Linked DNA regions of Homo sapiens. The protein of the gene in region 1 interacts with the protein of each later gene in a pairwise test. Each region holds a gene or a part of one and is shown on either strand. Other genes may lie near its edges.

Region 1 (7,490 bases):
GGCTAACATGGTGAAACCCTGTCTCTACTAAAAATACAAAAAATTAGCCGGGTGTGGTGGTAGACGCCTGTAGTCCCAGCTACTCGGGAGGCTGAGGCAGGAGAACGGCGTGAACCCGAGAGGCGGAGCTTGCAGTCAGCCAAGATTGCACCACTGCACTCCAGCCTGCGCAACGGAGCAAGACTCTGTCTCAAAAAAAAAAAAAAAAGAAAAAAAAAAGAAAAGAAATGATCTGGTCTTTGTGCTGCCATGGATGCATTTTGCCTCTTCTATGATTTGTAGGCGTTTAACTCTCCTCTTTCTCCTTAAATACATAATGCTTGTTTCCAGGGCAGGGTCCAATTTTTCTTTGTTCTGCCTGGTCATTCAGACATTTCTATACTGCATTGCTCTGTTTCTAAGGGACTTGAGCGTTACCTGAATAACAAAAATTTGAGTCACTGGCAGCCCCGATCTCAAATCTCATTTCTTGCTGGGTCAGGGGACAGCCCAGGAAGATCTAACATCATTAAGATTTCAGTAGTTTGGCAAGGCAAGCAGGGAAGGGAGAATTCTCTTTTTTTGGAGAGAGAGTCTCACTCTGTAGCCCAGGCTGGAATGCAGTGGCGCGATATCGGCTCACTGCAACCTCTGCCTTCCAGATTCAAGCAATTCTACTGGCTCAGCCTCTTGAGTAGCTGGGATTACAGGCAGCTGTCACCACACCTGGCTAAATTTTTTGTATTTTTAGTAGAAATGGGGTTTCACCATTTTGCCCAGTCTGGTCTTGAACTCCTGACCTCAAGTGATCTGCCCGCTTCGGCCTCCTAAAGTGCTGGGATTACAGGTGTGAGCCACCATGCCCAGTTGGGAAGGGAGAATTCTTATGCTACCAGTTCAATAAGTAAAAATTTCAGAAGACCAACTGCTGATGTCCCTAGGTTAAAGAAAAAAAAAAAAAAGACAAAACCCGCTGTTGTTTCATAGGCCACCAGGAAATATCCTGGTTATCCCTCAAAGCCATACTGCTTGGTTGAACAGGATCAGGTTGTGGGGTACTGCCAAGTGGAAACCGCTGACTTAGGTTGGGGCTAATTCAGCACAAGAACAAGCTTGTAGGCACTTGGACTTCCACCTTGGTGGTCCAAATAATAATACTAAGAGATGTGTCAGGGCTGGGCGTGGTGGCTCACGCCTGTAATCCCAGCACTTTGGGAGGCTGAGGCGGGAGGATCAGTTGAGGCCAAGAGTTTGAGACCAGCCTGACCAACATGGTGAAACCCTGTCTCTGCTAAAAATACACAAAGTTAGCTGGGCATGGTGGTGCGTGACTCTAATCCCAGCTACTTGGCAGGCTGAGGCAGGAGAATCGCTTGAATCTGGGAGGCGGGGGTTGCAGTGAGCTGAGATTGGGCCACTGCACTCCAGCCTGGGAGACAGTGAGATCCTGTCTCAAAAAAAAGAAGAAGAAGAAGAAGAAAGAAGAAGAAAGAAGAAAGAAGAAAGAAGAAAGAAGAAAGAAGAAAGAAGAAGAAGAAGAAGAAGTTGTTTAAGGCTTCTCTTTCCAAGGCCCCTGGTTAAGCTTACTGTATCACTAACCAAATTAGTTGATGAATAATTACCACCTATTAAGCAGTTACTATGTTAGGCACTGTGCTAAGTGTTTACTTTTGTCCCATTTAATCCTTAGAACAACACTGTGACTATTATTGTTATCCTACAAATGAGGAATGGAAGGCTTAGTGAAACAAAGTAATTTGCCCAGCATAGTGGTTGCACCAAGGGGTTACTGGGGTGCTTTGCTTGCCGCATGTGAATCTCTAGCAGCCCCACTCAAGTCACCTTACATAATTAAAAAAAACCCAATAATAATGATAATGATATTCTTTGATCTTGACAATGAATGTTTTTTCACTCTCATTTAAAATGTGAATAAAGGTCAGGCCTGGTGGTTCATGCCTGTAATCCCAGTACTTCGGGAGGCCAAAGGGGGGGAATCACTTGAGGTCAGGAGTTCGAGACCAGCCTGGCCAACATGGTGAAACCCTGTCTCTACTAAAAATACAAAAAATTAGCCGGGCGTGGTGGTGGGCGCCTGTAATCACAGCTCCTTGGGAAGTTGAGGCACAAGAATTGCTTGAACCCAGGAGGTGGAGGTTGCAGTGAGCCGAGATCACACCACTGCACTCCAGTCTGGGTGACAGAGCGAGACTCCATCTGAAAAAAAAAAAGTGAATAAAGTGATAATGGTACTACTAATAAGCTATTATTAGTTAGCTATAAGTGTTAGCTGTAACACTTATGGAGCGCTTATCCTAAATCATTCCGTTCAAAGTTCTAAACGTGATAACATTAAATTCTTACAATAATCTTTTCAGGAAGGTATTATTGTTATCCTAATTTGCAGATGAAGAAACTGAGACACAGAGGGGGTAAGTAGCTGTCACAAGGCATCATGACTTGCAGGTGGCAGAGCTAAAACTCTGCTATTTTTACTGATTTATAACACAGCCTAAGTAATACAAACAATATGCTCAATACAACAACTCACCTTCAAGGCAAGTCCTCCCGACTTCCCTTCCAACCAGTCTGCAATCCCCAAACACCTTTTATATGGAAGTTCTTAGTCACCACTGGTCCCAGATTACGTGGGCAGGAGGTGGGAAGCCTGCGTTCTCATCTGGGTTGGTCTGACTCTGAAGCAGGGATCTTTACTGTTGTACTGTTCCAGCCCCAGCCAGGTTAAACCCAGGTTCAAAGGCCAAATCACACACTGGTTGGAAATGACCTTGGAAATCATCTAACCCAGCGTTTCTCAACCTCCGCACTATTGACATTTGGGGTTGGATAACTCTCCTGGGGGGACCGTCCTGTGCATGATAGGATGTCAAGCAACATTCCTGGCTTCTACACACTAGATGCCAGCAGCACCTCCCCACTGTAACAATCAAAAATGCCTTCAGTCGGCCAGGCGCGGCAGCTAACTCCTGTAATCTCAGCACTTTGGGAGGCCGAGGCAGGCGGATCACCTGAAGTCAGGAGTTCGAGACCAGCCTGGCCAACATGGTGAAACCCCATCTCTACTAAAAATACAAAAATTAGTTGGTGGCGCACACCTGTAGTCCCAGCTACTGGGGAGGCTGAGGCAGGAGAATCGCTTGAACCCAGGAGGCAGAGGTTGCAGTCAGCCGAGATCGCGCCACTGCACTTAAGCCTGGGCGACAGAGCGAGACTCTGTCTCAAAAAAAAAAAAAAAAAAAAAAAAAAAAATGCCTTCAGTCACTGACAAATGTGGGAGTGGAGGTGGTGGAATGGCAAAATTTCTCCTTGGTTGAAAGCCACTGATCCAAACCATCTCATTTTACAAATGATGGAGCTGAGGTCCAAAGAGATGAAGTAACTTGTTTAAGCTAGTTAGCAAAGCCAAGATTAGAATCCAGGTTATTCACGCAATATCCTTTTATTTCTATAACGTACAGGGCACGATATGGAACTCAGAGGAAGTCACTGCAGTCCTTGTCCTCACAGTCTGGTAGGGGAGAGAATCTATTGCACAGATATCTCTATCTCCACGAAGTTGGTAAGTCATAAAGTGCTCCTCAGGCAGCAAGGTACGAAGAAAGAGAATATGTTCTCGTGTTCTGAATTCCGGATCTGCCACTTTTTTGCTGCAGGATTTAACTAAGGTTCAGTTTCATCATCAATGAAATGGAGATCATGGTATCTACTTATATCACCAGTTTGAAACGGGTCTGTGGATGCATTGTGCAAACTCTAAAGCTCTTACAAACATCGGGTATTATTACTAACTTCATTAGGAATGTGAGTTATATTAGAGTAAAAGCTCTCAGAACTGGGGTGAACCATAGAGGGGTGGCTTCATTCCTCGACCTTCCAATTTGAGACATTTTTTCTTCTGCGGGAGGGGAAGCAGGCAAATAGCCTGCCTCTCACAGAGTGCCCATTCCCTCTCCGGGAACCAAGGTGCTCAGGCGAGTAAACTCAGGACTTAACTCTGTACAACTAGTACCGCAAGCAGGAGCCACTCCCTGGCCTTCGGGTCTCTCAAGCCCCGCCTGCTCCAGGATACGGCCCCGCCCAGAAAGGAGACAGACCCCGCCCCCCCCGCGCTGCCCCGCACTCCAGCCGCGCTGTGCCTCCAGGACAATCCCAGGCCCGTGCCGGAGATTCCCGAGCTTCCCCGATCGCTTCCCGGCCTCCCTCGGGCAGCCAGCGAGGAGACTACGGAGATTGCCGAGGGGGCCTGGCCCCGCCCCCCCCGCGGGCCGCCACCGCCCCCCTCGCCGTAGCCTCCCGCGCGGGCTGGAGTTCTACATCCCGGTCCCTCCCTCCCTCCCTCTTTCTCTCTCCCCGCCTTCCCGGTGCTGCCACAGTGGCGGGTCGGAGGATCCCGGCCAGTCAGCTCGTTCCTGCCTCGCGCCCCTCCTCCCCCCAAAATAAACAGCCCTCCCCACGCCTCGGGAGCCCGGACCGCCCCCTTCCTCCCTCGGCCGGCGTGCTGTGAGGGAGAGTGTGAGCCAGCGCGGCCGGTGGGCGAGCTCCGGGAGTGCGAGAGGCGGGGCGGCGCGGCGGGCCGGGCCGGGTTTCGCGTGTGCGTGCGGGGGCGCGAGCGAGTGCTCATCACGACCCGCCAGTGGCCCCGCGCCGACAACCCGGCGGGCGGGCGGGCGGGGAGCAAGCGGTCAGGCAAGGAGCGGCGGCCGCGAGGCGCGGAGGGGCGCGGAGTCCGCTCGCGCGCACGCACGCACGCACGCGGGGGCGGGGGCAGGCGCGCGCCCGCCTGTCGCGACAGTCGGGGCCGAGGCCCAGGGGGAGGTGGCCTGTCGCGGGTCGCCCGGCTCCCGGAGGCGAGGGGGGCGCGGGCGGATGGCGGAGGGCGCCCAGCCGCATCAGCCGCCTCAGCTCGGGCCCGGCGCCGCCGCCCGGGGCATGAAGCGGGAGTCGGAGCTGGAGCTGCCGGTGCCCGGAGCGGGAGGAGACGGAGCCGATCCCGGCCTGAGCAAGCGGCCGCGCACTGAGGAGGCGGCGGCCGACGGTGGCGGCGGGATGCAGGTGACCGCGCGGGACGGGGCGCCCAGTTATTGCGGGGGTGGGCGTGAGGGTCGACACCGGGCTCCCCGGCTTGGAGAGAGGGAGGGCCTCCGGGAGTCCTGGGTTGGAGGTGGGATGGGGGGCCATTCGGGGCCTGGTTGGAAGGTGGGGCGAGCTCGGGCTAGGAACGAAGGTTGCAGGACTGAACCTGGTGTGCCCGAGAGGGTCCTGATTCCTGAGGGGCCAGGAGGCACGACGAGTGGATAGGTTTTGGGGGGAAATCGAACAAGGTTGAGATGGATTCCATTTTTTCAAATCCTTCCTTAGTGCCTTGGGGTGGAGTGGAAGCCGGGAAATCCTGGCTTCTCTGGACTGAGTCGAGGAAAAGGAGATCTGGTGGGAAACCTCCCGAGAAGAGGGAGTACCTTTTGGCAGCCCTGGGCACACGCTGGGATGGGGAAGAGAAGTGGCATTTCAATGAGAGGAGTGAAAAGAAAACTCCTCGAGAGAGCCCCGAGGGGATGTGGCTGAGATTGTGGGTTAAATCACACAGAGTGTGAGAAGTACAAGGAGTTTGGTAATGTTATGGGGACACGGTGGTGCTCAGTCTCATTTACTTTGTGGAGCATACTAATGAGTCTGAAGGGAGACACTAGACATGTCCCTCCTGTTCTTTGCCAATTGCATTCTACATCACCAGGACACAAAATAGCTCTTTAATGTCCCGGGCTATAAAAAAAATTTTTTTATAGGGCTATTAGAAGACTGGATTCTCAATTCTGGATTGAAAGATAAACGTGGTTAATTTGGGTAGGGAATGGGAAAGGTATTGATGTCAGCTGACTTCATAGTTTTGAAGAAGACCTTGAAACCTTTGGAGGTTTTACGATTTGGTCTTTGCCCAGAAAATACTGCTATGACATGATGAGTCTCACCTACCAACAGTTGTGCAGACTTGTGCCTAATTCTCTCGGAGTCATAGGATGTTAGAGGGATGCTAGGAGGACTAGACATCATCTTTTCCAGGGGTTCTTAACCTGGGAAGACTTGGAAGATTCTTACTCATAGTAGGTGATGTGCACTTTTTGGTGGAGGAGAGTCAATAGTTTTCATCTTTGTTTTTTTTGGAGGAGATTCAAGTCCCAGCTTGTTTTAACCACCTTATTTTATAGATGGGGAATCAGAAGTCCAGAGAAGATGGTGACTTGGGTAAGGCCACCCAGTTAGCTAATAGTAAAACTAGAACTAGAAGCCTGGTCTTCTAATTCCTATTCCTGTGCTGTCTCCATTACACCACTCTTGGAAATCTCTGCAGTGCTAAAAGACTTCCTGTGCTCTGCTCCCTGCTTTTCAAGCCTCTGCCTGACTTCCTGTGTTAGGGACAGAGCTGTACTTAAGCCTAGCATGTTTGTTGTATGCTTCTTGGTCTCCTTTGCAGAGTTTACCCTGTTACTTCTGTTGATTTAGGTAAAGTGACCCTCTTGGTGTTTATTTTTGAATTCTTTTGTTTTGTTTGCCTGCTTTTATTTTCCATTAGAACTCTGTCAGGCAGAGGGATTGTGAGAAGTAAAAGCTCAGGGCCATGGCAAAAAAGACAGGAATGTGGGAGACTTCAGGTGAGGTGAGCTAATATTGGATGATAAGGAGGGAAGACTGGATGTAGGTGCTGGTGAGCAGGTTCTACTTGGTGTGTGTGTGTGTGTGTGTGTGTGTGTGTGTATGTATTCATTTATCATTTCTGTCAATCCTAGTTAATAGTGAGACCCCCGTCCCTTTCCCTCATTTACTCCTGGGGCCTATTATCTGTTGGTTGCCTTCAAACTGGCTAAAGATAGTGATATTTGGAAATGGAGCAGTGTGTAGGGACTTCGCAGGGGTGTGCAGAGGAAAGAGTGGTTAGGTCCTTGGGGGTACAAATTGGCAGCTGAGAGTTATCCCTCCGAGAATCCTTTTTTCACTTCTTGTATTTTATTTTCTTTCTATACATTCTCTTTTTTTTTTTTTTGCCCAGGCTGGAGTGCAATGGCACGATCTCGGCTCACTGCAACCTCCACCTCCACCTCCACCTCTGGGTTCAAGGGATTCTCCTGCCTCAGCTTCCTGAGTAGATGGGATTACAGGCGTCTGCCACCATGCCCAGCTAATTTTTCTTATTTTTAGTAGAGAGGGGGTTTCACCAGGTTGGCCAGGCTGGTCTCGAACTCCTGACCTCAGGTGATTCACCCACCTCAGCCTCCCAAAATGTTGGGATTACAGGTGTGAGCCACCACACCCGGCCTTCTATACATTCCCATTGTTGTAGGTCCATTCCCCTATGTCATACAGGTATTCAAATCATTGATTTAGGCCCTGCCTTCAACTAGCTGAATGGTTCTGCAGAAATCTTTCATTTTGGGGCCTCTGTTTTCCTTAGTTGTAAAATAAAGTATGTGTACAAGATGATTTCCCTTGTAATCCAC
Region 2 (7,613 bases), on another chromosome or scaffold:
CTAAAGATAACAAATATGTGCTCAATCTCTGGATGGGAAAGGGCTTTCTAAACTTAAAGACAAACCTCAAAGGAACATATCCATGGCTTTGACATCAAGAAATTTAAAACTTCTATATGTCCAAATATTAAAAAGCAATCATAGGCCGGGTGCAGTGGCTCACACCTGTAATCACAGCACTTTGGGAGGCTAAGGTGGATGGATCACTTGAGGTTCGGAGTTCCAGATCAACCTGGCCAACATGGTGAAACCCCATCTCTACTAAAAATACAAAAATTAGCCGGGTGTGATGGTGCATGCCTGTAATCACAGCTATTTGGTATTTTTTTCCTTTTTTTTTTTTTGCAATGGAATCTCCCTCTGTTGCCCAGGCTGGAGTACAGTGGCAGGATCTCTGCTCACTGCAACCTCCACATCCTGGGTTCAAGTGATTCTCCTGCCTCAGCCTCCCAAGTAGCTGGGATTACAGGCGCCCACCACCATGCCCGGCTAATTTTTGTATTTTTGGTAGAGACAGGGTTTCACCATGTTGGCCAACATGTCTGAAACTCCTGACATCAAGTTATCCACCCACCTCAGCCTCCCAAAGTGCTGGGATTACAAGTGTGAGCCATTGCACCTGGCATATCCCAGCAATTTGGGAGATTGAGGCACAAGAATTGCTTGAACCCGGGAGGTGGAGGTTGCAGTGAGCCGAGATCACATACCTGCACTCCAACCTGAGTGACGAAGTGAGACCCTGTCTTAAAAAAAAAAAAGGCATAAATCAGGGCCGAGCATCATGGCTCACATGTAGAATAATCCCAGGGCTTTGAGAGGCCAAGGTGGGAGAATTGCTTGACGCCAGGAATTCAAGACTAGCCTGGGCAACATAGTGAGACCCCCATCACTACAAAAAAAAAAAAAATTAGTCGGGCCTGGTTGAAAGTGCCTTTAGTCCCAGCTACTCAGGAGGCTGAGCTTGGAGGATGGCTTGAGCCCAGGAGTTCAAGGCTGCAGTGAGTTATGATTGTGTCACTGCACGGAACAAGACATTGTCTGTAAAACAAACAAAAAATACCACCACAAAACCACAAAAATAATTAAAAGGTAAGCAAACTGAGAAGAATGTCTGGGGCAACTATCCTAAGGGCTAACAGCCTTAATAAAGAGCTCTGTAAACTGTAAGAAGTATACGAAGACATTAGCCGGGCGCAGTGGCTCACACCTATAATCCCAGCACTTTGGGAGCCCGAGGTGGGCGGATCATGAGGTTAGGAGATCGAGACCATCCTGGCTAACACGGTGAAACCCCGTCTCTAGTAAAAATACAAGAAAATTAGCTGGGCGTGGTGGCGGGCGCCTGTCGTCCCAGCTACTCTACTCGGGAGGCTGAGGCAGGAGAATGGTGTGAACCTGGGAGGCGGAGCTTGCAGTGAGCGGAGATCGCGCCATTGTACTCCAGCCTGGGCGACAGAGCGAGACTCCGTCTCAAAAAAAAAAAAAAAAAGAAGTATACCAAGACATAAAGACCACTGAGGCAAGATGATGAATTTTTTTTTTTTTTTTTAAAGACAGAGTCCTGCTCTGTTGCCCAGGCAGGAGTGCAGTGGTGCAATCTCTGCTCACTGCAACCTCCACCTCCCAGGTTCAAGTGATTCTCCTGCCTCAGCCTCCTGAGTAGCTGGGATTACAGGCACGCGACACCATGCCCGGCTACTTTTTGTATTTTTAGTAGAGACGGGGTTTCACCATGTTGGTCAGGCTGGTCTCTAACTCCTGAACTCTTGATCCACCTGCCTCGGCCTCCCAAAGTGCTGGGATTACAGGCATGAGCCCCACGCGTGGGCTGATGATTAACTTTTTATTTAAAAAAACCTTTGGCCGAGCATGGTGGCTCATGCTTGTAATCTCAGTACTTTGGGAGGCCGAGGCAGGCAGATCACTTGAGGTCAGGAGTTCCAGACCAGCCTGGCCAACATGGCAAAACCCCATCTCAACTAAAACTTAAAAAAAAGTAGCCAGGTGTGGTGGCACACACCTGTAATCCCTCTACTTGGGAGGCTAAGGCATGAGAATTGCTTGAACCTAGGAGGCAGAGGTTGCAGTGAGCCAAGATTGCACCACTGTACTCCAGCCTGGGTGACAGAGTTAGACTGTCTCAAAAACAAAACCAAACAAAAAAACCTTTCATTGCCAGCCATGGTGGCTCACACCTGTAATCCCAGCACTTTCTCTGCGAGGCTGAGGTGGAATGATTCCTTGAGCCCAAGAATTCAAGACCAGCCTGGGCAACAAAATGAGACCCCATTGCTACAAAAAATAAATAAATAAATAAATAAATAAATAAATAATCTGAGCAAGGTGGCACATGCCTGTGGTCCTACCTACTCAGGAGGCTGAGGCAGGAGGATTGTTTGAGCCCAGAAGGTAGAGGCTGTGGTGAGCCATGTTTGCACCACTGCACTCCAGCCTGGGTGACGGGCTGTGTCTCAAACAAACAAATAAAAAATAAAAATTTAAAAACCTTGTTTTAATATAAGTTGGACAATTTATATATAAGAGAATTGGCTATAAGTGTATGAAATGTATTCTACCTTACTACTATTCTTTTTTTTTTTTTTTTTGAGACGGAGTTTTGCTCTTATTGCCCAGGCTGGAGTGCAATGGCGTGATCTCAGCTGACTGCAACTGCTGCCTCCTGGGTTTAAGTGATTCTCCTGCCTCAGTCTTGCCAAGTGGTTGGGATTACAGGCATGCATCACCATGCCTGGCTAATTTTTTTTTTTTTTTTTTTTTGAGAGGGAGTCTTTGTAGCCCAGGCTGGAGGGCAGTGGTGTGATCTCAGCTCACTGCTTCCTCTGCCTCCTGGGTTCAGGTGATTCTCCTGCCTCAGCCTCCAGAGTAGCTGGGATTACAGGCGTGTGCATGCATAGATAATTTTTGTATCTTTAGTAGAGATGGGGTTTCACCATGTTGGCCAAGCTGGTCTGAAACTCCTGATCTCAAGTGATCTGCCTGCCTCGGCCTCCCAAAATGCTGGTATTACACGAGTGAGCCACCGCACCTGGCCGGACTCTCTTCTTGATTACCTCAGCCAAAGTGCCTTCTGAAATGGTACCACAGGTGTGTGCTTCTAGTTCAGTTTGTAGTAGAGGGCCTGGTATGTACCGTCATTCACCCTGCCTGCTCCATCTGCATCCCCCTCACATCCAGCAAGAGTTTTCCTTTACACAGGGTTTACGGCTCCCCTGCTGATCACCTGCCAAAGCCTTCTCTCGGAGATAACACCCTTGCCAAGGCCTAAGTGGCCTTTGAAGATCAGGCCCTGCTTAGCTCTGGGCTCCTGTCTTTCTTTTGATGTCCTCTCTACTTTTTCTCAAACCTGTCAAAACTGGATTCGGACTCTGTGGCACTGGGGTTGGAAACATGCTTTGTCCGCATCTTCCCAGGGTGGCACTCAGGCTTGCACTAGCTAAGGTAGCTCTGCGGCAGGGTCCAGCACTACCTTATTGTTAATTTGTGTATTGTCTGTGTCCACTAAAGCTGGGGTGAGGAAGGCAGCCAAATCAGACATGGGGAGGCCTGGGAGGCTACGGCATCTTAGGTTTTGGGCAGTGCTGCTAGAAACCACGAACATTAGTCATCTCGCAGCATGTGTGCACATGGGGTGACCCGGGGGCCTCCTCGAATGCAGCGTCTACGCCTGGTGAATGGACGCACTCTTACCAATTCTGCTCTGGGAGATGCAGCGGTAACCTACCGAGCGCAGAGGCCGGCGCGCACCCGTGGAGCCCGCGCTCGCGATCCCTCCTCGTGCCAGGGCCCCAGGGCAGTCAAGGCCTGCCGACCGTTAGGCGGGTCAAGGGGTACACAGGGTGCGAATTCGTTAGGCAAAAGCTGGGTACAGGCGCGAGCCACAGGCACGGAAACCTCGCGCCGACCGGGGCCCTAGGCCCGACGACGGCAGGTAAGGGGAAGTGGAGGCACACAGGGCTGGGACGTGCCCCAGGCACCATACGGGTGGCTTCGGGCGCGGGACGTCCGCAGCCCCGCAGCTCCCAGGACGTTCGACAATCTGCAGCTGACCAGCTTCGGCCGGTTTGGGGATAAAGGGAAGACAGGCGGCGCGGGGAGTGGGAACGCCTGAAGGCCGCGCCCCTCCTTTCAGGTCGGCCAGGAGCGCGCCGGTAAGAGCCTGGGGGCAAGGGGTAGAAAGACGCCCACCTCATCACAACCCAGAGCTCGGGACTCCTATACAGTCCCATAGGGAACAGGCGGCCGCCATTCCCCTCCCCCACGCTGGCGGGTAAGGCTAGAGAACGGTTTCAAGGAAGACGCATGCGCATGAAATAATTATAAACCGCTAGGACTCCGAAGTTCAATATTCGCGGGAAGGCGCAGGCGCAACAAAAAGCCCGGCGGGTTTATGGGTGGGGGTGCTGAGCCCAAAACCCAAGCGTGTAATAATCCGCCGGCGGGAGGTGGGCTGGCTCTTGAAATTACGCATGCGCCAGAGCTCTTTGTGACGCAACGGGGCGGTGCGGGCAGCTGGCTGCGCGTGCGCAGAACTCGCACAAGGGACCTTATTTAGGTTGCGCAGGCGCCCGCTGGCCATTTCGTCTTAGCCACGCAGAAGTCGCGTGTCTAGGTGAGTCGCGGTGGGTCCTCGCTTGCAGTTCAGCGACCACGGTGGGTACCGTTTTTGCGAGGATTGTTTGTCCCCATATCTCTGGGAGGGCCACGGGGACCTTGGCGAGCTGCAGGCTGCCGTCGAGAGCCGCGAGTGGTTCGCTGAATCTCGGCACCGCCGCTGAGGCCTGCAGGCCGCGCCGACTCTATTGTGTGAGAAGTCGGAGGAGGCGGAGCGGAAGCGGCCGCCGCCATTTCCTTTCCTCTACGCTGGCTCTCGGCCCGGGCCCCCACGGTTCGGGGCGCCGACAGCTGTTGCTCAGGACAGCTTTGGGGGTCCGGTCGCCGGACGAGGAGGTGTTGGAGTCGCCGGGGTGGGTGCATCCGCCCGGTTTTTGCTCCGTGGGGGGGCGGTGCGGGCCCGGGCGCGCCTCGGAGGCGAAGGACAGCTTAATTGGCGCTCTCAGTTCTGGTCCTCCCCGCTTTGCAGTTTGTTTCGACGCCGGACCGCGTAAGAGACGATGATGTTGGGCACGGAAGGTGGAGAGGGATTCGTGGTGAAGGTCCGGGGCTTGCCCTGGTCTTGCTCGGCCGATGAAGTGCAGAGGTTTTTTTCTGGTGAGTTAGAACTAGGACGCGGGAGTTCGAGTTCGAGGCCGGGGCGGGCGGGCTGGCGGGCGGCCGGGCTGGGGCGGGGCGGGGCGGGGCGGGCCGGGCCGGGCCGGGCCGGGTGGGACCCGGGGCGCCCCCTGGCGAGGCGCGGGCGACTACACTCACCGCTGTGCTGCTCGCGCCCGGCGGCCCGCTGTTACGCAATGGAAATTTCGAAAGCCCCGCCCGTCCTCCTGGCCCTTGGGGGAGTGCGGCAGGTTTGGCAGACTTTGTTTTCTTTACCTATCTTTGAACACCAGCTTTTCTTTTATGGGTGTCTTTTTTTCTTTTTCTTTTGAGTTGGAGTCTCTGTCACCCAAGCTGGAGTGCAGTGGCGCGTTCTCGGCTCACTGCAACCTCCGCCTCCTGGGTTCAAGCGATTCTCCTGCCTCAGTCTCCCGAGTGTCTGGGACTAGAGGCGCGCACCGCCACGCCCGGCTAATTTTTGTATTTTTAGTAGAGACGGGGTTTCACTATTTTGGCCAGGCTGGTCTCGAACATCTGACCTCAAGTGATCCGCCCACCTCGGTTTCCCAAAATGCTGGGATTACAGGCGTGAGCCACCGCGCCTGGCCCGGGTGTCTTTTTTCGAAAGGATAAATTGGCATAGGTGGGATTTCCTCCTCAATCTTGAGAAAATGGCCGAGTGATTAGACAAATAATAGTAATGTTTTGCAATATCTTGAAGTGTAACCTCTTGTTTCCAGTTTTGGTGTTTTCTTAAAAAGGAGCATTCTTCGGAAAGTTAAAATGTCACGTCTTAATTTCAGTTTTCCTAATCAAGATTTGATAATTGAAGAGTGTTTTCTTATCTAGTTCTTAATCTGGCTCACTATACAGTTGAAGACACTGAAGCCCAGGGAAGTGTTTTTGCAGTACATAGGTTTCCTGAATATTTTCTATCAGAATGTCCTTGTTCCTATTATTAGACTGGGAAAAAGAAATTAGACTGATTAAAATTCTATTTGGATGAAATTAACAGCTTTTGGCAAGACGTTTGTAGTATTGACTTACTATCTGAATTTAGCGTTGGTAACGGAAAGCGACCTGTAAAACAAGAACCAAGTACGCTGGAAGCCGCCTTGCAGGGGGCAACACTGGGTTTGGCTTCAGCTGTGCAACTTGGAGCATTTTAGCTTGGTAACACTGATCCCCTTTCAGGTGAGTATTGGGCTTGTAATTTGAATTTGAATGAGAAACCGTAATGTGGCTACTGGTAAGGTAAAACGGATAAATGCCCCAGACCAAAACAGCTCGCAACGAAGTATGTTTGCCGTAAAGTCACACAGTCCAGGCTTGATAATCTTCTGAGAAATTGATAAAAGATGTGTGATGTAGACATGAGTAGCAAGGACTAAAGAGATAAATTCATTCTGAAACTGCTTTGAATATTGTATGTTGTTGATGGGTTGGAAATATATCACCTTAGGAATGAGTTTGTTTTTTTTTAATTGGAGTTTTAGGAGTTGGTAATATCGTGGTCAGTATATATAGGCTTCACAAGTTATGTAATTTGTAGTGGGGACATGGAATAGACATTTCATCTGTGTCACCCAGAGGTGGTTTTAGGTTTTAAATTCTGTATTAACGGTTGTTTTCTTTCCAGACTGCAAAATTCAAAATGGGGCTCAAGGTATTCGTTTCATCTACACCAGAGAAGGCAGACCAAGTGGCGAGGCTTTTGTTGAACTTGAATCAGAAGATGAAGTCAAATTGGCCCTGAAAAAAGACAGAGAAACTATGGGACACAGATATGTTGAAGGTTTGATTTACATTGCCCTAGTTACAGTAAATAAAGCATTAAACAATAGAGGTCTCACCCCTTCTGAATTTTAGGTATTTGACTGCATGGAAATGGTCATCTAAGGGAGTTTGTGGCAGCTCTTCCTAGCTTATCTAAAGACCCAGGAAGTCTGAACTTTGTTATCTAATTTTCCAAAAGTGACTAATTCTAAGCACCTCTTTCAGTATTCAAGTCAAACAACGTTGAAATGGATTGGGTGTTGAAGCATACTGGTCCAAATAGTCCTGACACGGCCAATGATGGCTTTGTACGGCTTAGAGGACTTCCCTTTGGATGTAGCAAGGAAGAAATTGTTCAGTTCTTCTCAGGTATGTAGTCATGTTTGTTGCTGAGCAGTGAGTTTTGGCTAGCTTATGGCAAGGTGATTTAATAGACGTTAAAGTTGAGTAGCTTAGGTATTTCAGTAGGTTGTAAATTGCCAATGAATTAATGTTTTCTTCCTAGAGACCTTCAAATAATTTAAGCCCATCTTAAAGGTGGAAATGAAGTACTTCCAAAATGTTAACTTTGCCTATATTTAGTATTATAGTTCAGAGTAGATCTTTCA
Region 3 (7,637 bases), on another chromosome or scaffold:
TTCTCATGGTTATAAAGGCTGTGAAGTACAAGGTCAAGGGGCCATATCTGGTGACGGCTTTCTTGCTGGTGGGGACCCTTCAGAGTCCCAGAGCAGAGCAGAGCATCACCTGGTGAGGGGCTGAGCATGCTGACGTGCTAGCTCAGGTCTCTTTTCTTCTTATAAAGACACCAGTTGCCCTCCCATGATAACCCATTAATCCATTAACCCATTAATTCATTAATTCATGAAGAGCCCTCATGACCCAGTCACCTTGTAAAGTCCCCACCTCTCAATGCTGCCACATAGATTAAATTTCAACATGAGTTTTGGAGGGGACAATATTCAAACCATAGCACTTCCCAAACCAATGCCTCCTCCTGCCTTTCCCACCTCATCAAAGGACCATCAAGCTCCAATGGCTTATTTGAGAAATCTGGGAATCTTTTTGACCCTACTCTGTCTTGCCACTGCCTCTTTCTGATAATGATTAAATCCTATGCGGTCTACTTTCCTAACGTCCCTTGAACCTACTCACTTCTCTCCATATCTACTGCCATCTCATCCAACTGTCCCAGCCATCATCATCATCATCCAGTGGCCTACAATGGATAAAGTCAAAGTTCTTCCCATACGTGCGTGATGAGGTAGTATCTCCTCTCCAGCCTCATCTGGAGCTGCCCTTGTCCCTCCTGGCTCTGCTGCAGCAGAGCAGGCTCTCTCCTACACGTGGGAAGTCTATTTCCTGCCCTAGGGCAGTGAACAGAAGTCTCCTTCCCCTTTAGAACTGAGTTAAAATGTCATTACTTGAGGCAAGTTTTCTCTGACCAGATTCCAAGACTGGATCAACCTCCGATACTCCACATTTTTTCATGGCACTTGTCAAAATTGTAATGAAAGACTCACTTGTGTGATTATTTGCATATTTATCTCCCATCGTACTGTAACTTCGTAAGGACAGAGACCATTTCTATTTTATTTCGTTACCATAATTCCAGGCCCTTGCACAATGCCTGAGATACAGCAGGAACTCAAAAAATATGGGGGCAAATATTGGTTTGAAGAACACCAAGCACTTTCACAGACATATCTGTTGACTTCCTACACTCTTTTCAGGTAGGTGTTACCTCTGTTTTACAGATGATCAAACTGCCTTTTATTAATCTTAGATGATTTACCCAAAGACATGAGGATAGCAAGTATCAGAATTTGAATTCAGGACTCCAAAAATGTACTTGGTAATATTTTTCTGAAAAATACATACTTGGGGCACAAAAATCACTTATGCCCCAGCTGTCTCCTCCACTCTTATCCCTGTGGCCACTCTGTTCTTTGCCTTAGCCTTTGCCATCTCTTTCAGTTTTATTTAATTCACAAGCACTTCTTAAATCCCCATGCTTAAGTGTTGGTGCACTGAGGAATAAAAAGTAAGATCCAGCTCTTTCCCTCAAGAATCCCACAGTTAGTTAGGAGAAATAACTATGTGAGCACTCCAACCTTGAATTTGTAGGTATTGTTTCAGCTGGCAGTTACAGAAACTCAACTGAAATTGGCTTTAGCAAGAAAAGGAATGTACTGGCTCACATAAACTGCGAAGTGTAGATGTAGATCAAGCTTGCTTCAGGCATGGTTATATCCAGGGGCTCAGTGTTAGTCAAAATGCTGTTGCTGTTTCTATCTCTGGGATAGTCTTGTCTTTGTGCTGATTTTATTATTGGCCTGGCTTTCTCTACACAGTGGCTTCAGGCAGCCTCAGGCTCACATGGTTCTTAGTGCCTGCTGTTTCAGCTCTTCCTTCCCAAGAGCTAGGGATGGCACTCATCAGTCCAGCTTGGATCATGAGCCTCCCCCTGAATCAATCACTGTGGCCTAGAGAGTGGAATGTTCTGGTGGCAACATGCCCATTTAGAGTTGGAGTAGGATCAGCACCACCCATGCCATGTGATCCCCAAAGGGGAGTGTCTTAGTTCATTTTTTGTTGCTGTAACAGAATACCACAGACTAGATAATTTGTAAAAAAAAAAAAAAAAAAAAAAAAAAAAAAAAGTTTAAGGCTGGGCCTGGTGGCTCACGCCTGTAATCCTAGCACTTTGGGAGGCCGAGGCGGGCAGATGACTTGAGTTCAGGAGTTCCAGACCAGCCTGGCCAATGTGGTGAAACCTTATCTCTACTAAAAATACAAAAAAAGTTACTTCGGCATGGTGGTGCATGCCAATACTCCTAGTTACTCAGGAGGCTGAGGTGGGAGGATTGCTTGAACCCAAGAGGTGGAGGTTGCAGTGAACTAAGATCACGTCACTGCACACTTCAGCCTGGGCAACAGAGCAAGACTCCATCTCAATAAACAACAACAACAACAAAACCCAGAAGTTTATTTGGCTCACAGTTTTGGAGGTTAGGAAGTTCAAGGGCATGACAGCAGCTTCTGGCAAGGCCTTTTCATACTGTATCATAACGTGGTACAAAAGTGGGAGGGCAAGCGAGTACACGCAAAAGTGGCGAAACATGAGGGGCGGCCTCACTTTACAACAACTGGCTCTTGGGTTAACTAATCCAGTCCTGAGAGAGTGATAACTCACTCACTATGGTGAGAATTAGCGCAGTCCCAAGAGAGTGGCATTAATCCCTCTTAACCACCTCATCAAATCTTAAAGGCCTCACCTCCCAACACTGCCATGCTGGGGACCAAATTTCTAACACATTAATTCTGTGGACACACTCAAAGAAAGGCAGGAAATAATTATCTGAGGGGAAGTTGGCATTCCATTAAAGAAGAGGAATGCCAGAGATTCCCAGCCAACTCAATCTCTTGACCTTGCCCATCATTCACTCCTTTCTAGGCACATGGCTGGTGATTCTTGTTCTCAGTGGTTCCTGCCTTTAGGCTTTGCACTAGCTGATTGCTGTGTCTAGAACCCCTTATTCTCAGATCTTTGCATGGCTGGTTCTTTCCCATGCTTCAGATCTCTACTATAACATCACCCTCTCAGAGAGACCTCCTTGGACCTCCCATCTGAAGTGCCCACTAGTCATCCTCTTGTGCATCGCCTGGCTTATTTGCTCTATCTAAGGGAGGGTGACCTGCTTATTATTGTGTTTGCTCTGTGTTTTCATCTCACCAGAATGTAAGCAGAGATTTCCATCTATTTTTGTTCTTGAATCTATAAAGTTCAGAACAATGCCCAAACACAAAAGAAGTGCTCAGTAAATATTGGTTGGATAAATGAGTCTATGGTGGCACCTAGTGAGATAAAGGAAAGCTTTATAGAGGAGGTGTCCCTTAAAGAAGGTGGATTATTAAAATTATATATATAATATATGTAACATATATGTTTAATATTATATATAAAATTAAATATACATATTTGTATATAATTACATAAAATATATAAAATACAAATATATATACAATTTCATATATATAACAAAGTTTATCATTTTAGTCACTTTTAAGTGAATAATTCAGTGGCATTAAGTACATTCACAATGGGCAACCATCACCACCATCCATTCCCAGAACTTTTTTTAATATTCTGAAACAGAAACTTCATATCCATTAAACAGTAACTCCCCATTCCTCTCCTCAGTCTCTGGCAACTATCATTCTACTTTCTGTCTCTATGAATTGTACTTCTCTAGGTACCTCGCAGAAGTGGAATCATGCAGCATTTTTCTTTTTGTGACCGGCTTATTTTGCTTTATTTTGCTTAGCATAATGTCCTCAAGGTTTATCCATGCTGTAGCACGTGTCAGAATTGCCTTCCCTTTTTTTTTTTTTTTTTAATTTTGTTTTGAGACAGAGTGTCGCTCTGTTACACAGGCTGGAGTGCAGTGGTGTGATCTCGGCTCACTGCAACCTCTGCCTCCCGAGTTGAAGCAATTCTTCTGCCTCAGCCTCCCGAGTAGCTGGGACTACAGGCGTGCACCACCACACCCGGCTAATTTTTGTATTTTTAGTAGAGACGGGGTTTCACCATGTTAGTCAGGCTGGTCTGGAACTTCTGACCTCAGGCAAACTGCCTGCCTCGGCCTCCCAAGTTGCTGGGATTACCAGCGTGAGCCACCGTGCCTGGCCTCCCTTTTAAGGCTGAATAATATTCCATTGTACGTAGATACCAAATCCATTCATCTCTGAAGGACATGTAAGTTGTTTCTACCTTTTGACTATTGTGAACCATGCTGTTGTGAACGTTGGTGTACAGGTATCCATTTGAGCCCTTGCTTTCAATTCTTTTTTATTTATAACTAGAAGTGGAATTTCTCCACATCCTCATCAACGCTTGTTTCTGTATTTTTTTTTTATTGTAGCCACACACTATGAATGTCAAAAAGTGACATTTTGACAATTTTGAGCCAGGCTTTCAGGCAGCAGAGGCCTGGGTGGCAGTCTGTGGTGTGAAGTGGATTTAGTCACACACAGTCTGATGTTGTAAACCACATGGGCTCTATTTACCTTCCTCTCCTAGGACTAGGAAGATTCTGTAGAGTATCGGAAAGCATTGGTTCATGTGCTGCCAGGATTCATGTTGGCTCTGGTGAGCCAGGGACAGGGAACTGACCTGCAGGCAGCCCAAGCAGCCACCTACTCACCTCACAATGACAGGGACCCTCATCATACAGGTCAGGGCTCAACTCAAAGACAGGCGTGGCAGTGGGACACAGCAACAGGACTCTCCATGTGGCAAGGGCACCTGGAGGTGGGAGGGCAGGAGCGTCGTCTTGCCCTGGCAGAAGAAGCGGTAGGCTCTGTCTGCGTGGCAGCTGGTCCCCAGCCCTAGGAGAGAAGCTGTCTGTGAGCAAAAGGGAGGGGATACAGGTGTTGGTTGAGGTCTGGGCACCACCCTGCTGGGCCACAGTCTGCTGAAGAGAGTGGGGCTTAGGGGAGGGTTCCCTGGGAATGCAGTGGAGTACCCCTTAAGGATCTAGGGGCCACGCACACAAGGAGTCTGTGCAGCGAGGCCCTCGCTAGGACTTCAGGGCTGGAAGGGAGGGGTCAGTGTTAGGCCTACAAACTACTGTTGTTCAACTGGGAATGCAGAGTCTTGCAACTTTCTTCACCTTGGATACTCCCCTGTGAATCAAGGTGGCTCTGAGTCCTAGGCCTGGGCCTTCCTCTATCCAGGGGAAGTGCTGAGGCCTGGTTCAGAGGAACATGTGAGCTGGAGCCAGTTCATACTGGCTCACAAGAGCCCATCCTGTGCATATCTGTGCAACTCAGTGCCAATGACATTATGTTGATAGCCTGAAATGAGCCATGATAGGAGCATTTACACCACAGAAATTGGCAGATGCTATAAACCCAGGGCCTATTTTCCCTGAAAACATGGTTGTTAAACATTTACCAGCACTTCACTTGCCCTAGGATCAGCTATACCTCTCAAACAGTAAACCTGATCAGTAAATGTGATCTTCTAAACAGCCCTCATTCCTCCTGAGTCCTGCTCCAGCCCCTTTGTCCCAGGGACCCTGGTATCACCACCAACCCCTTGATGATGGAGTGACATGCAGGGTAGGAGCCCAGGGAAGATGGGGAGGAGTGGGCTAAGAAAGCTGGGGCAGCCATGCTTGGTTGGCACAGCTTGAAGATAGTGGCTACTTTCCTTGTCTGTGGCAGAGCAGGGCTAAACAACTTGTCTGTGTCTAGGTCGTTTGCCATGGCAGGTGTGAAATACCCGGGACAGGTGAGTGATGTGGGTTTCTGTCCCCTGTGACGGTCTCAGGGTTGGGTAGCCTCAGCAAGGCCCTGGAAGGGCCAGGCTCTTTCTAGAAGCTCATCTTTCTGTAATGATAGTTTTGGGTTTTGTGGGTTTTTTTTTTTTTTGGTACAAGAAGAAGAAGAGAACTGAGTTTTCTTCTTTATAATTTTCTGGGGGTTCAGTTATTTACTCAGCATGCACTTATTAGGCACCCACAGTGTGCCAGGCCCTGTCCTGGGCTTTGGGACTGCAGAGATGTCTAAGTACACTAAACCTGCTCTAGTGTACTTCATTAAATCCATCACAGTACACCCTGCAAGTGCTGTTGTGGAGGGTTGTAAGGAACAAGGAAAGGGTTTAACTCTTGGGAGGTGGAGAATAAAAGGGTGGGAGAGATGTTTTGGGGAAGTGACATTTAGTCTGGGTCTTGGAGGATAGGTAGGAGTTTGCTAGTCTGTGAGGAGGGCAACTTGCATTTCCATCAGGAGATAGGAAAGAGCACATGCCAGGCCCATGCAAGTGGGAGGAAGTAAGGCTGGAGTAGAGAAGGCAGGAAGGTGGCGGGATGGTAAAAATGGGTCACAGCCAGATCATTTGGGCTCTGAATGTCAGGCCCCAAAGTCGGCCTTTGTCCTACAAACAGCAAGAAGCCATTGAATGGCTTTAAGTGGAGGAGTGACGAGGGAATCTCTTGTTTTATATTCTCCTTGTGCTTTAGGACCCTGTGGATTTAGACATATACCAAAGCTCCCACATGGTCGACTATCAGCCCTACAGGAAGCACAAATACTCCAGGGTCACGCCGCAAGAGGTAGGAAGGCACGCAAGTCCTGTCATTCAATCAACTGCCTACTGAAATCCTCTCTGTTGCTTCATTTGTATTACAAATGTGGACATTTGGGCCCTTGTTAGAACAATATCCAATGCCAGGAGATATGACTTAGAGATCTTTTCTGTGCATGTGCATGTATGTGTGTGTATTTTTTTTTTCTTTTTGAGAAGGAGTCTTACTCTGTCACCCAGGCTGGAGTGCAGTGGCGCGATCTCGGCTCACTACAACCTCTGCCGCCTGCCTGGATTCAAGCGATTCTCCTGCCTCAACTTCCTGAGTAGCTGGGATTACAGGTGCCTGCCACTGCGTCAGCTAATTTTTGTATTTTTAGTAGAGATGGGATTTCACCATCCTGGCCAGGCTGATCTTGAACTCCTGACCTCGTGATCCACCTGCCTCGGCCTCCCAAAGTGCTAGAATTACAGGCGTGAGCCACCGTGGCCGGCCATGTGTGTATGTTTTCAAATGTACATCAAATACGTCATGCATACAAAAAATTGTAAATAATACACATTTAGAGTTAAAATTACACTGATAAACACCGATGTAACCATTACAGACCGCTTAAAACATGGCACATTAACATTAGCAGTACCTTGTAGCCTCTTGGTAACCCGCAAACTTACCCCTCCTCCCATCTCCAGAAGTGGTTAATCATTCCCTTGTAGGCCAGGCACAGTGGCTCACACCTGGAATCCCAGCATTTTGGGAGGCAGAGGCGGCCAGGAGTTGAGACCAGGGGTTTGAGACCAGGAGTTTGAGGCCAGCAGTTCGAGACCAGCCTGGCTGACATGGCGAAATCCCGTCTCTATAAAAAATACAAAAATTAGCCTGGCTTGTTGGTGCACGCTTGTATTTTCAGCTGCGTGGAAGGCTGAGACATGAGAATTGCTTGAACCTGGGAGGTGGGGCGAGACTCTATCCCCCCCAAAAAAATCATTCCCTTATGTGTTTTTCTAAAAACTCATTTTACCTTATATGTATATATTCTTTGGTTTTGCCTTTTTGAACTTTATTACATATTGGATTTGTACCCTTCCACAATTGTCACTTTTTGCTAAACATTATGGCATATTATTCATTTTCTGCTGCATAGTATTACATTGCATGAATATGCCACAGTGTACCGT
Region 4 (7,027 bases), on another chromosome or scaffold:
CAGTTTTACTTACTAGAGTTCTGAGTAGGGCTGAATTTGAAAAACATGTTTCTGCTATTGAGAAAAGAGATAGGAAACCAATGACTTAGACGAATAAACGACATCCTAATTGTCAACCAAATAGAACACAATGAGCTATTCTTAAAATAAAGGCGGTGTGCTGGTGGAGTCAGATAACTCTGGTTTCAGATTCCATTTCAGCCCCATGCCATTTGAAGAATTTGTTACTCTTTAATTTATCTAAACTTTGGTTTCCTCATCTGCCAAATGGAGATTAATACTATACATTTTGTAGGGTTGTTGGAATGATTAAATGGGATATTTAAACATTTATGGTAATAATTCAGATTTGTAAAAATTCCTTGCAATTCAGATGTGATCATTTCTTTAAGCTCTACAATTATTGCATGAGGTAGGTACTCTTTTAAACTTTCCATCTCTTTTTACTTTTTATTATGCAAATTTTCAAACACATAGAATAATAATATGGTGAATATCTATGTGTCTATCACTGAGTTTCAATAATTATCACATTGTGCCATTCTGGTTTCAATTGCTACCTCCACCCCTCCATTTATAAGTGAAATTACTTTTACAGATAACGTGGCTGAGGTTTGGAGGGGTTAATTTCTTTGCCCAAGCTCCTACAGTTAGGAAGTAGTAGAGTTTCAGAAATGAAACCCAAGACCGCCTTGGCCCTGAGGCAATAATGTCGGCTGTCCTGTCTTAGAATCTGGGGCATCTTTGAATAGTCAAAATAGTTGGGAGTCCCATATACTGAATGATCACACACAGAGTGAAAAGCCAGGGAGCTGTTCTTACTATTTCTAGAATGCCTTCAGGTGCACAAGATATCTCTCAGCTGGTCTTTCTGCTGCTTAATTTGTAGACCTGGTTTTGGTGGTGTTTTCTTGTATTGTGGTAGATAGGTAAGTGCATTCTACAATTCTTTTTGGCCAGAATTTGTTTTTCTTGACTCTGCACCTATTTATCATAGGAACCTAGACATTTCAAATTTGAAAGAGATTTTTGAAGCCATCTTCCGCTGCTCGAATCCCCTCCTTACTGTCCCTGCCAAGTGGTGCACTTGTACCACTTGGTACAGTTTATCAGATGGGGAGCTTACCACTTCCCTTTGCTGCCCCTTCCCTTGCTATGAACCCCCTCAAAATACCTTTTGCTTTCTATCACTGAAATATGTCTCTATCAAACTAATTCCCATTGATCTGGATTCTGCCCTTAGTACTCCAAGCCAAATCTATGTCTTTTTTCTTTCGATACCCCTTTGGATAGTGAAAGACAGCAAGACAGCAACAATATTCCTCCCAGAATGTTTTTGTCTCTATAAGCTAACCACCTCTGGTTTTCTAAGTTTCTCCCCATGTGCCAATTTGGTTAGTTTCCTGTCCACACTGTTGGTCCTTGTGGCAGTGTAACTTTGAAAGCCAAGTACAATAATCCAGGGGTGATCCAATCCATGCAGATTTGATCCTCCCTGTCTGCATTCTGTTTCCTGTTAATGACAACCAATACTACACTCACTTTTTTCCCCAAGTCGACTTTCACTCTGTGGACACATTTTCAATCTCTTAATTCATTCATTCAATTATTCATTCAACAGATATTTATTAAACATCTACTATATGCTAGAACTGTGTGAGAAACTAGGGGGATGGAGCTGTGAACTCCATTAATCCCTGCCTTCCTAGAGCTCACATTCTAGTATAGGAGAAAAAAGAAGCAAGTAAATACAAAAGCTATGATATCTTCAGAATGTGAAAAGAATGGTATTCCCAGTGGAGGAGACCCATAAGAAACACACAAAAATAAACAAGATAATTTCAGTGACAACTGTGATAATGGAAATAGAGCAGAGGGAAGTGATAGGAAGAGCTCCTTTAGTCTGGGTGTCAAGGAAGGCTTCTCTGAGGAGATGTGATTATCTGGGCTGAGACCTGGGTTCTAAGAAGGAGCCAGTCAAGGGAAGTTCTGGAAAGAACATTTGGGCAAAATGGAGAGCAAGGGCCAGGCATGGTGGCTAAAGCCTGCAATCCCAACACTTTGGGAGGCTGAGGTGGGCAGAACGCTTGAGCCCAGGAGTTCAAGACCAGCCTGGGCAACATGGCAAGACCTCATCTCTACAAAAAATACAAAAATTAGCTGGGCATGGTGGCACACACCTGTAGTTCTAGCTACTCGGGAGGGTGAAGCGAAAGGAACACTTGAGCTCAGGAAAGTCGAGGCTGCAATGAGCCAAGATTGCACTACTGCACTCCAGCCTGGGCGACAGAGTGAGACCCTGTCTCAAAACAAAACCAAAAGGAAAAGCAAATGCAAAGACTGTGAGGTGGGAGTGAGCTTTGAGAGGGACAGCGAGACGGGAGAGTCAGGAGGGATGGGGACATGGCCATGGTATAAGTATAACAGAGACAGGCAGGCAAGGCCTCAGGAGGCCTGGAGGATCACTGCGGGGAGTTCAGATTTTATTCCACATGTTATGGAACACTTTTGCAGGTTTTTAGGAAGGGGTGTGACATGAACAGATTCACTAATGTTTGAATCTCTGTCCAGCTTCTGTGTGGAGATGGTTTGTAAGTGTGTGGGAGAGGAAGTGGGAGGCCTCTGGGAAGATACTGTCAGAGTCCAGGGGAGGCCTAATGGTGGCAGTGGCTGGGTAGGAGTGACTGCAGTAGGGATGGAAAAAGTGGAGGATTCAACTGTGTGTTTTAAGATGAGCCAATGGACCTACTCATGATTTGGGTACACAAACAGACACATTGAGGCTCATGCTCTGCTTCACGCACGAGTTCACTTGACAAACAAGGATGGGGGCATGCATCACTATCAATGTGACTGGGGTGTTGAGACCGAACACTGGCAAACTCAAGGTGGGGAGTGTAGGGCCTCAGAGCAAAGGATTCCAACCTGTGGCCCATGGGGTCTCTGAAGTAATTCCCCAAATGCTGAGAGCTGGGAGGATGTCTTTCCGGCAAAAGGGTGTAGAGAAGCTTTCCTCAGATTTTCAAAGAGGTGTTGACCCCTCCAAGAGGAGAAAACACTAGCCAAGAGCATTAGACTCCAAAGATCTCCAGAGCTGGTTTCTAGTCTAAGACATCAGCCTGAGTTCCATGTCTGAGTCTTGTCTTTATCACTCCCATCACCAAGTTTCAAGCTTTCAAAATAATAATGATAATAAAAGAGGCTATGTATTCCAAGCTTGAGCCCCTGGTTGGACGGTGTGCCATTTACAAAGGTGGGGAAGAAATGGGGAGCAATGGGTTTTGGGGGAGAAATCAATAGTTCTGTCTAGTGCTGATTTAACTCCAAAATCTGGTTCAGTTATCTTTTAGTTAGTCTTAAGTTTGGGCTTAGAGAATTGTGGCAAGCCACTTATTCAAGGATTACTTATTCATTCATTCCCCTAATCTCTAAAACTTCAAAGCCTCAGAATGAGGTCTTTGGATTTGCTGTTGACTCCGTTGCCCTAACTACAGAATGACATTTGTTCATTTCTTCATTCATGAATTCATTCAACAAACACAATTGCCTTCGCAGTACCAGGCTGTATGATGGGTCCCAGGGACACAGAGATAAGCAGAACAGAAGCCTTTCCTCAAAGAGCTCCCAGTCTAGTGGGTGGCATGAACACAGATACATCTGACAACAATGACATTCAACAAATATTGCCAGGTGCGGTGGCTTATGCCTATAATCCCAGCACTTTGGGAGGCCGAGGTGGGTGGATCACTTGAGGTCAGGAGTTTTGAGATCAGCCTGGCTAACATGGTAAAACCCTGTCTCTACTAAAAATACAAAAATCAGCTGAGCGTGGTGGCAGGTGCCTATAATCCCAGCTACTCAGGAGGCTGAGGCAGAAGAATTGATTGAACCCAGGAGGCAGAGGTTGCAGTGAGCCGAGATTGTGCCATTGCACTCCAGTCTGGGTAACAAGAGCAAAACTCCGTCTCAAAAAAAAAAAAAAATTAGTATGCACCTATTACTGAAATGTCTGAAAAAAATACAATGGTGGAAAAGCTGGGGACAGTCTCTGACCTCCTTTATGAACTTTCAACATCTTGCAAAAGGCAGATCACAACACACTATAGTAAGTGTTCTGGTGATGAAGTGCCAGTGCCATGGAAGCGCACTGAGGGGACACATGACTGAACATTGTACTTGACTACTGGACTGGGCTTGGTACTTAGGGAAGTCTTCCTCTGAGGGAAGCAATCTGAAGCAGCAACAGATGAGACCCCTGCACTGTGTGATGAAAGATGCGGGTGTAGTCCGCAGGTAGCAGGGATGTCATGATTAATAACTGCAAAGGTTTCCATAGTTATGTCCCCCAGCTAGGTCTTGAGAAGAGAGAAAGAACAGCCTATGGAAAGAGCCCAGCAGCAGGCGCAGGGAAAGATGAGAAGTTACATGGGAGTGAAGTGTAGCATGTGTTAGTGACCGGGAGAAGGTGGCTCGAGCTTGCTGGGTGTGGTTGGCTTCCCTGGATGCTTCCAGGCCCTCTGTCAGCACCCAAGACTTTCCCATTTACCTGTCATAACAAACTTGGTCTGCAGAGTGGAAAGGCTTTGGTGAGCATTATTCCAAGCCAGACTCAGGTAGGGAGATAAATCTACTGAAATAAAAGAAATCTGTTTAAGCATTTTTTGAAAAACAGAAGTGGTTTATTGATTGGCAGCTTTCTGAGGCTATTTGTTGCAAGAAGGAAGAAGGCTTTTTTGCACTTATTTTGGTAAACTTTCACTGTTGGCTTCCATTGGCCAGTTCTCCACACTGGTGAGCAAGTGATATTTGGGAATCCACTCGGCTTCCTTGCTTGAATGGCTCTCCCAACAAACATCTCTTTGTGCTACTGTTATTTAAACAATTAGGTGAACCCGACTTCTCTGGAAAAGTTGCTTGGAATACATAGCCTCTTTTGTTTTTTTTGGTTTTTTTTTTAGCATTATTCTTTAAAAAGCTTGAAACCTGGTGATGGGAGTGATAAAGACAAGACTCAGATACGGAAACTCAGGCTGATGTCTCAGACTAGAAGCCAGCTCTGAAGATCTTTGGAGTCTAATCTCAACTAGTGTTTTCTCCTCTTGGAGGGGTCAATACCTCTTTGAAAATCTGAGAAAAAGCTTCTGTGCAGCTTTTGTCTGAAACACATCCTCACATCTCTCAGTATTTGGGAATGATTTCAGAGACCCCGTGGGCCACAAGTTGGAACCCTTTGCTCTGAGACCCAACCCTTAAGCAAGTGTCTCCCTCTCTCTTTATTTTACTTTATTTTTAAATTTATTTTTATTTTTTAGATGGAGTCTCGCTCTGTCACCCAGGCTGGAGTGCAGTGGCGCGATCTTGGCTCACTGCAACCTCCACCTCCCGGGTTCAAGCAATTCTCCTGCCTCAGCCTCCCAAGTAGCTGAGATTACAGGCATGCACCTCCATGCCTGGCTAATTTTTGTATTTTTAGTAGAGACAGGGTTTCACCATATTAGTCAGTCTGGTCTCGGACTCCTGATCTCAGGTGATCCACCTGGCTTGGCCTCTCAAAGTGCTGGGATTATAGGCGTGAGCCCTTGCACCCAGCCTTTCCCTCTCTTGAGCTTCCCAATGCTGGGTCTCAGCACCCCAGTCCCATTGACACTGATGCACCCCTGTTCTTGTTTGTCAAGTGAGCTAGTGCTGGCAGACACTGGCTCTTCCCTCCTCCAGCCTGCCACACGTCCTGGCAGTCCCCCTTCATGATGGCCTTTGGTGCCTTGCCTCCCTGCTCGTCTCTCCTCTGCCACCCTCACCACATCTCTTCTCACTGCATTGGGTGCCTTTCCCTCCAGGATGCCCTCCACCCTTCACCAATTTCATCTTCTGAAGCAGGTCAACAGCACTGCTCAGACATCTCTCATGGCTCGCCTTGTCCTCTGGCCCCTTGGGCCTGGTTTTCAGGGGTCTCTGTAGTGGCCCTGCCTCCATCTCTAGATGCACGTCTTGCTGGTCTCCTGCACATGCTCTATAAACCAACAAGAGCTACCAGCAGGTGCATGTCACCTTGCCTTTGCTCATGTTATTCCACTACCAGGAATGCCCTTCTCCCATATCTCTGTCTATCTAAATCTTATCCATCCTTAAGGACCTAGAATAAGTGTGTTGTCCTCTGAATTCTTTGTTGCTCACATCATTCAACATTTTTCTTTCTCTTTTTCCCACATTCCTCTTTTTAATTGAAATAAACAACTATGTCCCACCTCTTTCCTAAGTGTTTTAAGGTGGCCCAGATAACAAAAAATAAGGAGACAGGTGGATTAGAGTTCCAGCACACTTTCTAGCTGTAAGCAAGTTCCCCAAACTTTCTGTGCCCTATTTTCCTCATCTGAAAAAATGGGAAAAGTCACAGCGACTATTTCAAGGGATTACTATGGAAGCAAATGAAATGATATATGTAGAGCTCACACAGCACTGGGAATAAGAGAAGGACTCGATGTTCATCATCATCATCACCATTCCACCATCATCATTGTCATTATCATGGATAAAATAACAGGACATGATTGATATGGGACAAGGAGATATATATGCCAGGAAACTTAGGCTGAAGGGAAACTGCTCAACTGATAACAGCATCTGGTTTGAGATTCTTGGCAGCCAGGGCATAAAGGGAGATCATAGCATTCGGTTTTCATAACTCATATTGTCTTCTAAGAGAAAGCAGAAGGGGTCATCATAAGAGACAAATGCTTCCCCAGCTCTGAGAGCTACATGGGATAGATCTTTTGAGGACGATAGAATGGAAGAATCTGTTTAAAATCAGCTCTCTTCTTGACCATTGGCCAGAGGGAAGGACACAGCCCCTTAATCGGGGCTATCAGCCCAGTTCCAGTGTGGGATTCTGATGAGGTGGTGGGCACCTGGCACATATCGTGTGCTGCCTTGTGGCAACAATTCCTCTTCCGCTACTGCACTATGGGCTTCTTAAGGGCAAGGTCTGTGTCTTACTCATCTTTGTCTCCCCAGTGCCCAGCTGAGTTCC

The links.
Region 2: the proteins of RBFOX2 (region 1) and HNRNPH1 interact in binary tests that used the Homo sapiens proteins (3 or more experiments, as listed by UniProt).
Region 3: the proteins of RBFOX2 (region 1) and SPMIP9 interact in binary tests that used the Homo sapiens proteins (3 or more experiments, as listed by UniProt).
Region 4: the proteins of RBFOX2 (region 1) and C1orf94 interact in binary tests that used the Homo sapiens proteins (3 or more experiments, as listed by UniProt).

What each region holds. Positions count from the first base shown.
Region 1 is NC_000022.11:36,025,802-36,033,291, reverse strand, and holds the start of RBFOX2 (RNA binding protein fox-1 homolog 2), read left to right. Parts: upstream 1-4,467; 5' UTR 4,468-4,866; coding exon 4,867-5,052; intron 5,053-6,208; exon of another isoform or gene 6,209-6,228; coding exon of another isoform or gene 6,229-6,240; intron 6,241-7,490. UniProt on the Homo sapiens protein: RNA-binding protein that regulates alternative splicing events by binding to 5'-UGCAUGU-3' elements. Prevents binding of U2AF2 to the 3'-splice site.
Region 2 is NC_000005.10:179,620,653-179,628,265, reverse strand, and holds the start of HNRNPH1 (heterogeneous nuclear ribonucleoprotein H), read left to right. Parts: upstream 1-4,594; 5' UTR 4,595-4,671; intron 4,672-4,864; exon of another isoform or gene 4,865-4,985; intron 4,986-5,078; exon of another isoform or gene 5,079-5,101; 5' UTR 5,102-5,132; coding exon 5,133-5,229; intron 5,230-6,289; exon of another isoform or gene 6,290-6,423; intron 6,424-6,868; coding exon 6,869-7,024; intron 7,025-7,230; coding exon 7,231-7,374; intron 7,375-7,613. UniProt on the Homo sapiens protein: This protein is a component of the heterogeneous nuclear ribonucleoprotein (hnRNP) complexes which provide the substrate for the processing events that pre-mRNAs undergo before becoming functional, translatable mRNAs in the cytoplasm.
Region 3 is NC_000002.12:88,520,012-88,527,648, forward strand, and holds the start of SPMIP9 (protein SPMIP9), read left to right. Parts: upstream 1-4,637; 5' UTR 4,638-4,771; exon of another isoform or gene 4,772-4,795; intron 4,796-5,398; exon of another isoform or gene 5,399-5,488; intron 5,489-5,623; 5' UTR 5,624-5,633; coding exon 5,634-5,660; intron 5,661-6,393; coding exon 6,394-6,486; intron 6,487-7,637. UniProt on the Homo sapiens protein: Microtubule inner protein (MIP) part of the dynein-decorated doublet microtubules (DMTs) in flagella axoneme.
Region 4 is NC_000001.11:34,179,889-34,186,915, forward strand, and holds part of C1orf94 (uncharacterized protein C1orf94), read left to right. Parts: intron 1-7,027.